Homo sapiens: one gene and its partner. The protein of the gene in region 1 purifies or fractionates together with the protein of each later gene. This does not show direct contact. Each region holds a gene or a part of one and is shown on either strand. Other genes may lie near its edges.

What was found. The genes of interacting proteins can lie anywhere in the genome.
Region 2: the proteins of TSGA13 (region 1) and SCGB2A1 purify together in Homo sapiens (affinity purification with mass spectrometry; 3 studies listed by BioGRID and IntAct, with this or other methods). This does not show direct contact.

Annotation. Positions count from the first base shown.
Region 1 is NC_000007.14:130,682,750-130,690,822, forward strand, and holds the start of TSGA13 (testis-specific gene 13 protein), read right to left. Parts: upstream 3,797-8,073; 5' UTR 3,513-3,796; intron 2,612-3,512; 5' UTR 2,462-2,611; coding exon 2,439-2,461; intron 924-2,438; coding exon 845-923; intron 1-844.
Region 2 is NC_000011.10:62,211,220-62,215,214, reverse strand, and holds the end of SCGB2A1 (mammaglobin-B precursor), read right to left. Parts: intron 1,490-3,995; coding exon 1,445-1,489; 3' UTR 1,272-1,444; downstream 1-1,271. UniProt on the Homo sapiens protein: May bind androgens and other steroids, may also bind estramustine, a chemotherapeutic agent used for prostate cancer. May be under transcriptional regulation of steroid hormones.

The DNA.
Region 1 (8,073 bases):
AGAAGTTGGCAATTCTTGGCAGTTGGAGAAGGAGCGGGAAGAAGCATAGCAAAGCCACTCCACAAATTCCTTTAGAGAGGGTGGGATGAACTATGAGATGGTGGGATGGATCCAAAGACTCAATCATTTAATTTTTTACCACCTTATGGAAAACTAAAGTTCATTTGTTGAAAACAGAAATATGAAAAACCTGCTTCACAACTATGAAATGTATGACATATTTAGAATCATAGAAGTTAGGAAAAACTTATTTGGGAGAAAGGTATGAAGACCTTTTCTCTTACAGGTTTTTTAAAAAAAATAATTTTAGGGGGAAATTCCCTGGTGAAAATGTTTTTACTCCTGAAGTTTTTTGAAGTATTGCATATCTGTTCCAAATTAGTCTCTAGCAGTTGACTAAACCCACAAGATTGTCCAAATTGGAATGTGTTTTTAGTTTTGTTATGTTGAATTTCACTATCTGTGGCTGATTAAATAAAAGTTGGCCTGGAAAATTCACTTGAATGTGGTAAACATGGGAAAACAACCAAGATACCCAGTGGAGTTTTGCTACAAGAGGTAGTTGTAAAGTCTGCGTAAGTTAGGGTTTGACACGCTCTTACTCCCTAAGATAGGTTTCTGCTTCCTGGGTTTTATGTCCTGATTTGTTGCTGATGTGTCCTGTTCCTTCTTTTTCTGTGCTCTATTTCTCTTCAATAACATTTGACAAGTTAACCTTGTTTTCCATATACATTTTTACTCCTTTTTGCTTTTCAATAGGGAAGTTTGTGATATCCAGCTTATTAAGTACACTAAGCAGCTCCAAAGAAAAATTAAACATTGAACACTTACTAACACTCCTTACCTCTTTGCTATTGACAACCATTCCTTTCTCACGTTTAGCTGAGCTATTTTCTGAAGTCTTTGATTTGCCATTTTGAAACCTGAAAAAGAGGCAGAACATCCGGTTGCACTTTCTGGCTCAGAGGCCTGGACTTCTGCATATTGTCAGTCTCCCTCAACAAAGTTTGGAAGCCTAACTCAGACAAGTCCAATTTAGGTGATCACATCAGTAATTGACTAAGTAGCAAAAAAATCAGACTCATTATCCAGCCTGCATGCTAGGGAAAAGCAAGACTTCAGTTTGGAGAGTTAAACAAGTGGGACCTTTGGATGACTCAGTGACATCCATTGAGTTGGTTTCTTCTAAAATAAGGATTTTAGACCATTCACAGAAGTGCTCTAACGACTGCTTAAGGAAATTATTTTGGGAAGTTAGATCCTCACAATACCCTTAAAAACCACCTACTATTTTGAATACTTACCTGCCTATTCTTCTTCCACATGGAAATTGCCCTGTTTTTGCCAGTGATTGGCCAATGATTAGCCAATGAATCTGTGAGAAGGAATATAGTTAATAGAACCTCACAACTAAGTTTCCAATTCTTGTTGACCTTGCTTGGATTACTGGCTCTCATGTCTTCCTAACCACATCTCTGAAGACTTCTCTTCTTAGAACTAGGGTAGTAAAAATAATCAACAATGGCAAATATTTCTGTACTCTACTCTGTTACCCTCACCCTAATACCAATTCTCTTTGCAGAAAATAGGGTGAAGCAGCTTCTATTCTTTGCTATTCTTTTTAAACCCATTTGCTGCCAGAACATAATGTAAAATGCTCCTCAGTAAGATTTGGTTAATGATTAAGATAAATGGCCTGCTTCTTCCTTGGAGATAGTTCCATTGGGTGGTTAAATTAGCTCAAAGTAAGAAGAATTATGCAACTATCTCAACTAGACCTCTCTCCTTTAAAAATGAGGATAGCAGAATAAGGACCAAAATAAAAGTAGAAATAGCCACGCTATGTCGTTTGTAGGTCAACTGGCTATAGCGTGCTACAAATAATCCCCAAATCCATGATTCTATCCCATTCAAGCATAGCTACCTTCCATCTGTTGCTGGCCACCAGTTGCACCATTAACTCAGGTCAGAGGTCTTAAAAACGGTCCCAACAGAGTAGGTGACCCATGATGGAGAGACCAAAATTCATCCCAACTTAACATCTTAAAGTTTGTGCCCTTTCATTAAGTTATCTAATAATTAGTAATACAGTATAATATTTATTGTAGCACTTTTCAAAATGATTCTTTGATACCTAAAAGGAAGCACAGAATCCCGGATACTCTTCTTCAGGGCCAATTTAAGGCATAGAACTATATGAAAAGCGCTTCTTTAGCCCAACAGCGTCCATCTGGAACAAGCTGGTGCTTTCTTTTTGACAAAAGCAACCATGAAATACAGACCAAGATCCGGTTTTTGATCCAGGGACAATCAGTCAATTAAAATATGTTTAATGAGAGTCTACTCTGTGACCAGCACCATTCAACGTGCTGTGGGCTATGCAATAAGTTAATATAAAGTGGTGTTTATAACTTAGTTGGGCAAACAAGACTACATACTTGGTTTGTCTCTTTTGGCTCATTGCTGTTGACTGCTAGTTGGCCAACCCAAGGCAGGTATTCACCCAAGGCCAAATTCAGGTCTCTAAATAGTCCACGTTCTGCAGGGGTTCAATTCAATCCAAATATTCTTTCCTTAGCACACAGTGTGTACTCATGCCCCATTCTTGAGCCTGTATGGGAAACAAGAAAAGACTGATAGGTGCTATTGTAGATGTAGAAAATGCACAAGACATGATGATGCTTGCTCTTAGAAGTTAAATTTATTTCACAAACGGGGGAGGTGGGAGAAAGCGATTATCCAATGTAAAACAATAGTGACAAATACATGCTAATATATTAGGTAAGTCACTTTATCTCTTGGGGTCTCAATTTCCTTATCTGCAAAATGGAAAGTATTAACTAAATGATTTAAAGGTGACATTCTAATTCCATGATAGTGATGAGATTTAACTATAAAAAGATCTGAAATAAAATTAATTCACATATGTCCGTAGAAGGCTAAAGGTGGAGAAGCAGCCATCTTCCAATTTTCTCCTCCTGTCAACAAAGCCATGCTCATTCATAGATTAGGCCTGAGAAGCTGGGAAAAGTGTGTGTATATATTGGGAATGGGAGGATTGCTATACTTTTTGATATAGACAATTAGAAATGGAAGATACAAGCTGATAAGGTAGAACCAACCATTTAGAGAAAAGAAAGGTCAGTGAGCCTTGGGATGTTTCCTAAAGGTTGTGGAGCTTGAGCAGAACCTCGCAGGATAGTGTATGAAGTAGTCTAATTGGAAGATTATTTGTCGTTGTTAAGTAGGAAGAAATAAAAGCAGGTAGGTCGAATGGAGTCACATTATAGGGGCCTTGACAATTAAGTAGAACTTTGAAAAGACCTACATCAGCCCAAATTCCTATGAAGCCCACAGGTTTAGTGGAAAGCCCATAGACAAGGGTTTATGTCTAACTTGATTGTCTAGACAAACCCTAAAGATGATTTCTAGAGTTTATGACAAGACTGAGCTAAACCCTTAAAGTTCCCTTCTAGGGAAATAGAGTAATAAGCGTTTCACCCTTTTCTCACCTTTAATTTTTCTGGAATTGTAAGTCCAATTCATGTATATGGTGAAACTAAAATAAAAATGAGCTGTCAAATTGGGCAGTATAAGTCTTGGGTTGCTAGTCTGCAGGCCAGGCTGAAAAACAAATCACACAAACACTAAAACTACATTCAAAATAAGAATGTAAAAACCTGGTGTACACTACCTTTAAGAACATCACGAAATCATAGTTTGGTGAAGAAGGCAAAGTCTTTGGCATGGGAACTTTCCATTTTGAAAATATCGTAATTATTCTTTTCTGGATTCTGGAGGAGACAGAGGGAATTTGTGATGAATAGGCAATCTAGAATGCTGAGGTGTTCTGTGTTGGAGACAGAGAATGAAAAGGCCAAAACTTAAAGGCATATTTAAACAAAATCTGCCAATCTCTTATTTTGCCAGCCTATGACTTCTCTACACACACACACACACACACACACACACACACACACACACACACACATCTTCACCATCTCTTAATCTACCTCTACCTAAGCCAATGTTTTCACTGCATTCTTCAAATACAGTGAGCATTTTTTCTTATTCCCCATACTTAAAATGCTGTCCCCAATCTCTTCAGCCATTTGAATCTTCTCCTTCTCCTTCTCCTTCTCTTTCTTCTGACGGAGCCTCACACTGTCACAAGGCTGGAGTGCAGTGGCACAGTCTCAGTTCACTGCAACCTCTGTCTCCCTGGTTCAAGTGATTTTCCTGCCTCAGCCTCCAGAGTAGCTGGGACTACAGGCGCCTGCCACCATGCCCAGCTAATTTTTGTATTTTTAGTAGAGACGGGGTTTCACCATGTTGGCCAGGATGGTCTCGATCTCTTGACCTTGTGATCCACCCACCTCAGCCTCCCAAAGTGCTGGGATTACAGGCGTGAGCCACCATGCCCAGCCCTGAATCTTCTTTCTTTATGTTACTACTCAGGTCATTCCTTTAAAGAGAAGATTTTCTAGATTAATGCAATCCCAAACTCTAGACTATAGTCACTGGGTTTTGTGCATGTCATTGTATAGTGTCTTGTAGTTCTGTTTTCACTTTTCTTATGTGCGGGTCTTGTCTGCCTCTTAAGCTGTGAGTCCCTTAAAAGTGGAAATGTAAATTTTAAACATATTTGTGCCCCCCTCCCAGTGCTTTGTATCTTATGCATTCAAAACTAGTGTTTGCTTATTTCAATATATTTGCTGAACATTTATGACATATTAGACACTCTCCTAGGTGATGAGAACAAAGCATAAATCAGATGTAATTCTTGAGCTCCTTTAGGAGCTCACAGTTTAGCCAGGAAGAGAGACAAAGAAACGGTTGATTGCAACAGAGTAGAATGCCAAATTAGATCTAAATTTAGGGTACTATGGAAGCAATGAGGAAGGGGACTTAACCCATACTGAGAAGAGACTGAGAGAGATTTGGAACTACTGCCTAAACTGAGCTGGGGAAGATGAGTGTGAATTAACCAGGTGATGAGAGGACAGACATTTGAGAAAGAGGGAGAAGCAGAGGCAAAAACATGAGAATACAACAAAGCCTGGCTTATTTAGGGGAATTGAAAATACTGTAATTGCAATATGCCAGGAACATAAGATTTAGGGGAAGGGTAGTGAGAGGTGAGACTAGAGAGGAAGACAGGATCCAAATCCTAAAATGAACTATTTGATAGGAAGTTTGTGGGTTATTCTGAGTAATGAAGCGCTAACAAGAGATTTTAAATGAGGTATAATCTCCTTATTGAACAATATATATTTTAGAAATACAAAAATAGTGGCATGTGAACTATAGATTGGAAAGACAGAAGAACTATAGATTAGAAAGATGCAAAGAGGTCCTTGAGAAGTCTATGACAGTGCTGAGGAGGGGTTGAGAAATTATAAGGGTCTATAGCCATCACCAATTAGTGCCATTCACTCCTGCATCCTAGCTCTGGATGATTGATTCAAAGGTGGCCAACCAGGTTATACTAAGAATTTGAAAGTTTGCTAATGACCCACAGAGCTGTAAGATGATTGCACCTGAGCCACCTCATGTGGTATCCCAGGCTGGAAGACTCTGAGCTCTGAGCTCTACCTGCTGAGGTCCCCGGAGCTGCCCCAGATCTAGTCCTTCCTAAAGCAAGACTACACAATTTTCTCTTCAGTTCTGTGAGCTTTCCTAATATTCTTTCAAATAAATCCTTTATTTTCTTAGGGTTCATTTCTGCAGTTTATGACCAAAAAAAAAAAAAAAAAAACCTAATATGGGCTCTGAAGCAGGGTGTCCAATCTTTTGGCTTCCCTGGGCCACGTTGGAAGAATTGTATTGGACCACACATAAAATACTCTAACGCTAACAATAGCTGATGAGCTAAAACAAATCACACAAAAAAAACTCATAATGTTTTAAGAAAGTTTTTGAATTTGTGTTGGGCTGCATTCAAAGCCATCCTGGGCCACGTGTGGCCCATGGGCCATGGGTTGGACAAGCTTGCTCTAAAGCAAGGTAGTGGCAGTGAAGAGGGTTAAAAAAGGATATATGAAAGATGTTAGGAGGGTAGAATTAATAGAACTTGGTAACTAGTTGAATACATGAGATAAGGAATATAATCACATTTTTAGCTTTGTTACCTGAGTTAATGGAGGTGCAAGTTACCAAATTAGAGAACAAAGGGAATGGAGCAAGTTTGGGGGATAAATGATGAATTTTGTTTCTGGTCAGTTGAGTATGAGGCAGAGGTGAGGATGTTGTCTAGTAAGTAGTTTAAAATATGGGACTGGAGCTCAGGAGAGACAGGTTTGGTACTATAGATTGAATGTTTATGTCCTCTGCCTCCCTAAATTCATATGTTGATACTGAGTCCCTAATTATGAGGGTATTAGGATGTGGAGCCTTTGTGGGGGCAATTAGTGCACTTATAGAAGTGGCTTCAAAAGCACATCTTTACTCCTTCTGCCATGTGAGGACACAACAAAAAGCCGGTCCTCACCAGATACTGAATGTGCCAGCACCTTGATTTTGGACTTCCCGGCCTCTGGAACTGTGAGAAATAAATTCCTGTTGTTTATAATCCACCCAGTTTATGGTATTTTGTTATAGCAGCCTGAACAGACTAAGCCATTTGGGTAGAATTATGCATTTGGAAGTCAGCCTCAAGCATTATGTGCTAATTGAAGCCATTGGACTAGATAAGATCAAGTAGGAAAAATGGTGGACTAACAAGAGACTAAAGCATAGAACCATGCCCCAGACTATGTAAACATCCAAAAAAGAGCATCATAAATGAATTTTGTAAAGAACATGGAAAAGGAGTGGCCAGAGATTGAAAGAGAACTAGGAGGAAGTGGCCACAGGTGGGATGATATCATTGGAAGGGATGCTATTATGAAAAAGGAAACAAATTTTTTAGCTTCAAGCAGCAAGTTTTGAAGGTATAGAAAAAGATTAAAACTTGCAAAAATGACCAAAAGCTTAATAAGCAATCCAATGCTGCCACTTATAAGGCAGATAAATCTAGACTGAAAAAAACCTACAAGGCTTGGGTTCATGGAAATGCCAGGATTTGCTTGAAGAAACAGAGACCATCTGGTAAAAGAGAATGTGAATCCCCATTGTTTGTCTTCTTTTTTCAGAGATACAGGGGCTGCATTGATCAAAACTCAGGGCGATCCTCCCTGCCTACTACTCCTTGGGTGTTGATCTATGACAGGGCCTAAGAACAGCTCCCCCTTATCCCTTCACCTACATAACTTTCCACATTCAGATGGAGACTTCACACCCCAGGTAACAGCTGGGCAGGGAGGACAGGGTGCTGGGGTGGCACAGTGCATTCTGAGAGATGTGACCTCAGGAGCAAAGAGCAGGAGGAAGGGCACAAGATGGGAGGAACTGTTTTTTTGAACAGTTTTGTCCTCTTTTCTCATTTCTAACTGTTTATAAAATAGAAACGGCTACCTTTATGGAAGTATTGGTATGGAAAGTAAGGAAGTGTGGAAAGAAGCATCTACCCTTCATGAAAAAAGGTAGTGGCACAGAATGCCAAGCAAGGGTAGTTTGCCCCATTTTTGTCTTCTTTCATTCTTTCTTTTTCTTTCTTTCTTTCTTCTTCTTTCTTTCTTTCTTTCTTTCTTTCTTTCTTTCTTTCTTTCCTTCTTTCTTTCTTTCTTTCTTTCTTTCTTTCTTTCCTTCTCTCTCTCTCTCTCTCTCTCTCTCTCTCTCTCTCTCTCTCTCTTTCTTTCTGTCTTTCTTTCTTGCATTTTCAGACAGGGTCTCATTCTGTTACCCAGGCTGAAGTGCAGTGGCATCATCATAGGTCACTGCAGCTTCAAACTCCTGGGCTCAGGCACCCACCCACCTCAGCCTCCTGAGTAGCTGGGACTACAGGCATGCACCACCATGCCCAGCTTTTTTTTTTTTTTTTTTAAAGAGACATGGTCTCACTGTGTTGCCCAGGCTGGTCTTGAAATCCTGGCCTCAAACAATCTTCCTCTCTCAGCCTCCCAAAGTGCTGGGATTACAGGCATGAGCTACTATACCTAGCCACTCTTCCTTCCTTCTTTCCTTTCTCTCCTT
Region 2 (3,995 bases), on another chromosome or scaffold:
CTAAAAAAGAATATAGTCCAGCTCTTCTTGAGAAACTAGATTTTTGTCATTTACATATTGAATTACAAGTTGACACATCACATCCTTATTTGACCTAAACTTTGGCCAGAAGATTGAGGGTTTGAGGATAGGTCTCTGAGTCCAAATAAAACAGCAATATTTTATCATCTGTTGCATGGCTTTTGTAGGTCACAGGTATTACATTGCCTTCATAGGCCACTTCTTCATAAGAACATTTTAAACATACTTTACAACTGTATTGGTAAGACGAAGTATAGAATTCAGGCTAGATTCATTGGTATATGTTCATTAATATTACAATCACTTCAGGAAATTATTCTTTAAATTATAACATTTTCATACACCCCTATGTATATTGTGGGCCTGGATCCCTGCCCTTGCCTTGCCTGATGGAAGAGTCGGCCCTGGTGAAGCTGAGTTGTCCAGACACATAGACAGGGTCTTCCTGGGTGAGGGGATAGCCCCAGAAGGAAAAGGGACAGGCAATAACCTAACCCTGGTGACAGGAGTGCTGGGGACAGGACACGATGGAGACCCCGGTTCCATTTAAACATCCCCTTCTGTGCTGGGTCCCTGCATAGCACACTCACTCCCCTCAACCCTCATTGCCTTTGCAGCTCACTGTGGGGCAGGGGAGGATGGACCCACTGGCAGAGACTGGACTGAGAAAAGTTGCACAATTTAAGGTGTCGCTATGCTAGCAAACTCAGTCATCAGGGTAAGTAATATTTTCATGCAATATTTTAAAAGTTCAAAATTAATGCCAACATCCATGAACGACAAATAAAACTCAAAATTTAAAATCCAGACAGGATCCACCTTGCTTTGCAGGCCTCCCCTCCCTGGCTGGCTCTGGTCTGGGCCCTGCACACGTTGGGGAGGCCCAAAGACAACCCAGAGGAGCCTGGCATAACCAGCAGGGCTCAGCATGGATGGGACTGGGGTAAAATCAGGGCTTCTGAGCATGACTCCAAGAGTGTGAGGTCCCCAGAGAAAGTGGCTTAGGGAGGTAGTGGGATGTGGAGAGTGAAACACTCTTCAGAGAAAAATTAGCTAAGCAACAAGAGCTAATACTTTGTTCTGCAGAGAGAGAGAAGTCCAACTCTTGGGCTCGAGATGATGAGAAATAAAGTATTTCCCAGAAACCTCGGACCCTCACTCAACTCCTTCGAGGCTTGTCTCTGTCTGCAACCTACAGCCTGACTGTGCAGCCTGGAAAGCTTCTTTTTTTATAGAAGAACAAGAAAGAATTTTAGTGATTTGCAGTTAGTTTATTGAAATGGAAATGAATTTGAGGTTTCAACAGTTGTCTAGCAGTTTCCACATAAAAAGACAACACAAGAAAGAAAAGTGGTTTCTAGCAATCAACAGATGAGTTCTGGCCATAGTCTGTAGCCCTCTGAGCCAAACGCCTTGGGTAAAGTTAATTACTCTTCATATTACACCAAATGCTGTCGTACACTGTATGCTGGAAAACAAAAGCAGGTCACTTAGGTTTGCAAATTTCACTTATTAAATCAAATATTAAAACTTGTCTTCTTGTTTTCTTGCATTTGTCCACAAACAGCTAACTCTCAGGAGGATTTGCAGTGGAAGCAAAGCCAGCATCCCCTCTCCATTTATTCTGTTATCTAGGAGACACTTCATAATGCCAAACAGGGGCCAGGGTTGTAGGATCTCTTCCCTACCAGTGATCCATGTAATACTTTTTTTCTCCAAAAATTCTATCCTTTGAAATAACTTATCCAATAAATATGCTGCATATACTATTTGTTGAAGACCTGATCATTTGGACTGTTTCTGATACCACTTTTACAACACAGAATTATTAAAAAATCTCAGCTCAGATACAAGAATGTGATGGTTTTGAGTTGCTGCACAGGCATAAAAGGTAGAAATGTTGTAACAGTCTGAGACTCTTCACCATTACCTTTGAGGCCTATGAAATATTGGAGCTGGGCTGGGTGGGATGGCTCATGCCTGTAATCCCAGCACTTTGGGAAGCCAAGGAGGGCAGATTGCTTGACCCCAGGAGTTTAAACCAGCCTGGACAATATGACAAAATGCCATCTCTACAAAAAAAAAAATATATATATATATATGTGTATATATGTGTATATATGTATATATGTGTATATATGTGTATATATGTATATATGTGTGTATATATGTATATATGTGCATATATGTGTACATATATGCATGTATATGTGCACATATATGTGTACATATGTGTACATATGTGTGTACATATGTGTGTATATATGTGTGTGTGTATATATATGTATATATATGCCAGGTGTGTTAGTGTGCACCTGTAGTCGCAGCTACTCAGGAGGCTGAAGCGGGAGGATCACTTGAGCCCAGGAGATGGAGGCTGCAGTGAGCTGTGATTGTACCACTGCATTCCAGCCTGGGCAAAAGAGCAAGACTCTGTCTCAAAAACAAAAACAAAGACAAAAAAACGGAAACAAGAAACACTGGAGTTTTACAATATGAATGATTAATCTGAGGGGTTTTTTTGGTTTGTTTAGGATTTTTGTTTGTTTGTTTGTTTTTGAGATGGAGTCTTACTCTGTTGCCCAGGCTGGAGTGCGGTGGCACTATCTTGGCTCACTGCAATCTCTGCCTCCTGGCTTCAAGTAATTCTTCTGCCTCAGCCACCCAAGCAGCTGGAATTACAGGTGTGCGCCACCACGCCTAGCTAATTTTTGTATTTTTAGTAGAGACAGGGTTTCAGCATGTTGGCCAGGCTGGTCTTGAACTCCTGACCTCAAGTGATCTGCCCGCCTTGGCCTCCTAAAGTGCTGGGATTACAGGTATGAGGGATGCACCTGGCTAATCTGAGTTTTTAAAGAAAAAAATGATTCAACCATCCCAAATTGCAGTTAATATTTATTTTTATCCTTGAGCATTTGATATATCTTTACATTTTTTATTATGGAATGTTTTAAATAAAATTTTAGGGTATTAAATAAATTCTTAAAAAAAAAATGTAATCCCAGCACTTTGGGAGGCTGAAGCGGGCAGATCACCTGAGGTCAGGAGTTTGAGACCAGCCTGGCCAACATGGTGAAACCCCATCTCTACTTAAAATACAAAAATTAGCAGGCTGTGGTGTTGTGTGCCAGTAATTCCAGCTACTCCGAAGACTGAGGCAGGAGAATCACTTGAACTCAGGAGCCGGAGATTGTAGTGAGCCGAGATCGTGCCATTGCACTCCAGCCTGAGCAACAAGAGCTAAACTCCATCTCGAAAAAAACGAAAAACAAAAAACAAAACTCGTAACCAACACATCTTTATAAACAGACAGAAATACTCCTTGTTATAACCACTGACTTTTGTTTTAAACAATTCTAGCACTCGTGCTGTTTCATACCCATAATCTGCACTTCCCACTTCATGAGGCACTTAATTAAGTGGTGCATGACTTCCAGTCATGTATGCTAACAAATCTTGGTTGCTTGGACTTGCATTTTAAATTCTTTATTTTAGGCCGGGAGCAGTGGCTCACACCTGTAATCCCAGCACTTTGGGAGGCCGAGGCGGGCAGATCACCTGAGGTCAGGAGTTCAAGACCAGCCTGGCCAACATGGTAAAATCTCATCTCTACTAAAAATACAAAAATTAGCTGGGCATGGTGGTACATGCCTGTAGTCCCAGCTACCTGAGAGTCTGAGGCACAAGAATTGCTTGATCCCAGGAGGCAGAGGTTGCAGTGAACGAAGATCATGCCACTGCACTCCAGCCTGGGCAACAGAGTGAAACTCCATCTCAAAAAAATTTTTTTCTTTATTTTAGAAAATGCAGAATTTGCACAAATTGTATTTTCTGAGCTAGATAAAAAAAAATAAGAATGTTTTGAATATTTGTTTTTGTGAAAGTAGGAAATTTCTTAGTAGATTGCTCCTACAAGTGTGTGATCTCTTGAGAACCAGATATTTTCTCTTGATAAAAATGTGCATGTTCTGGCT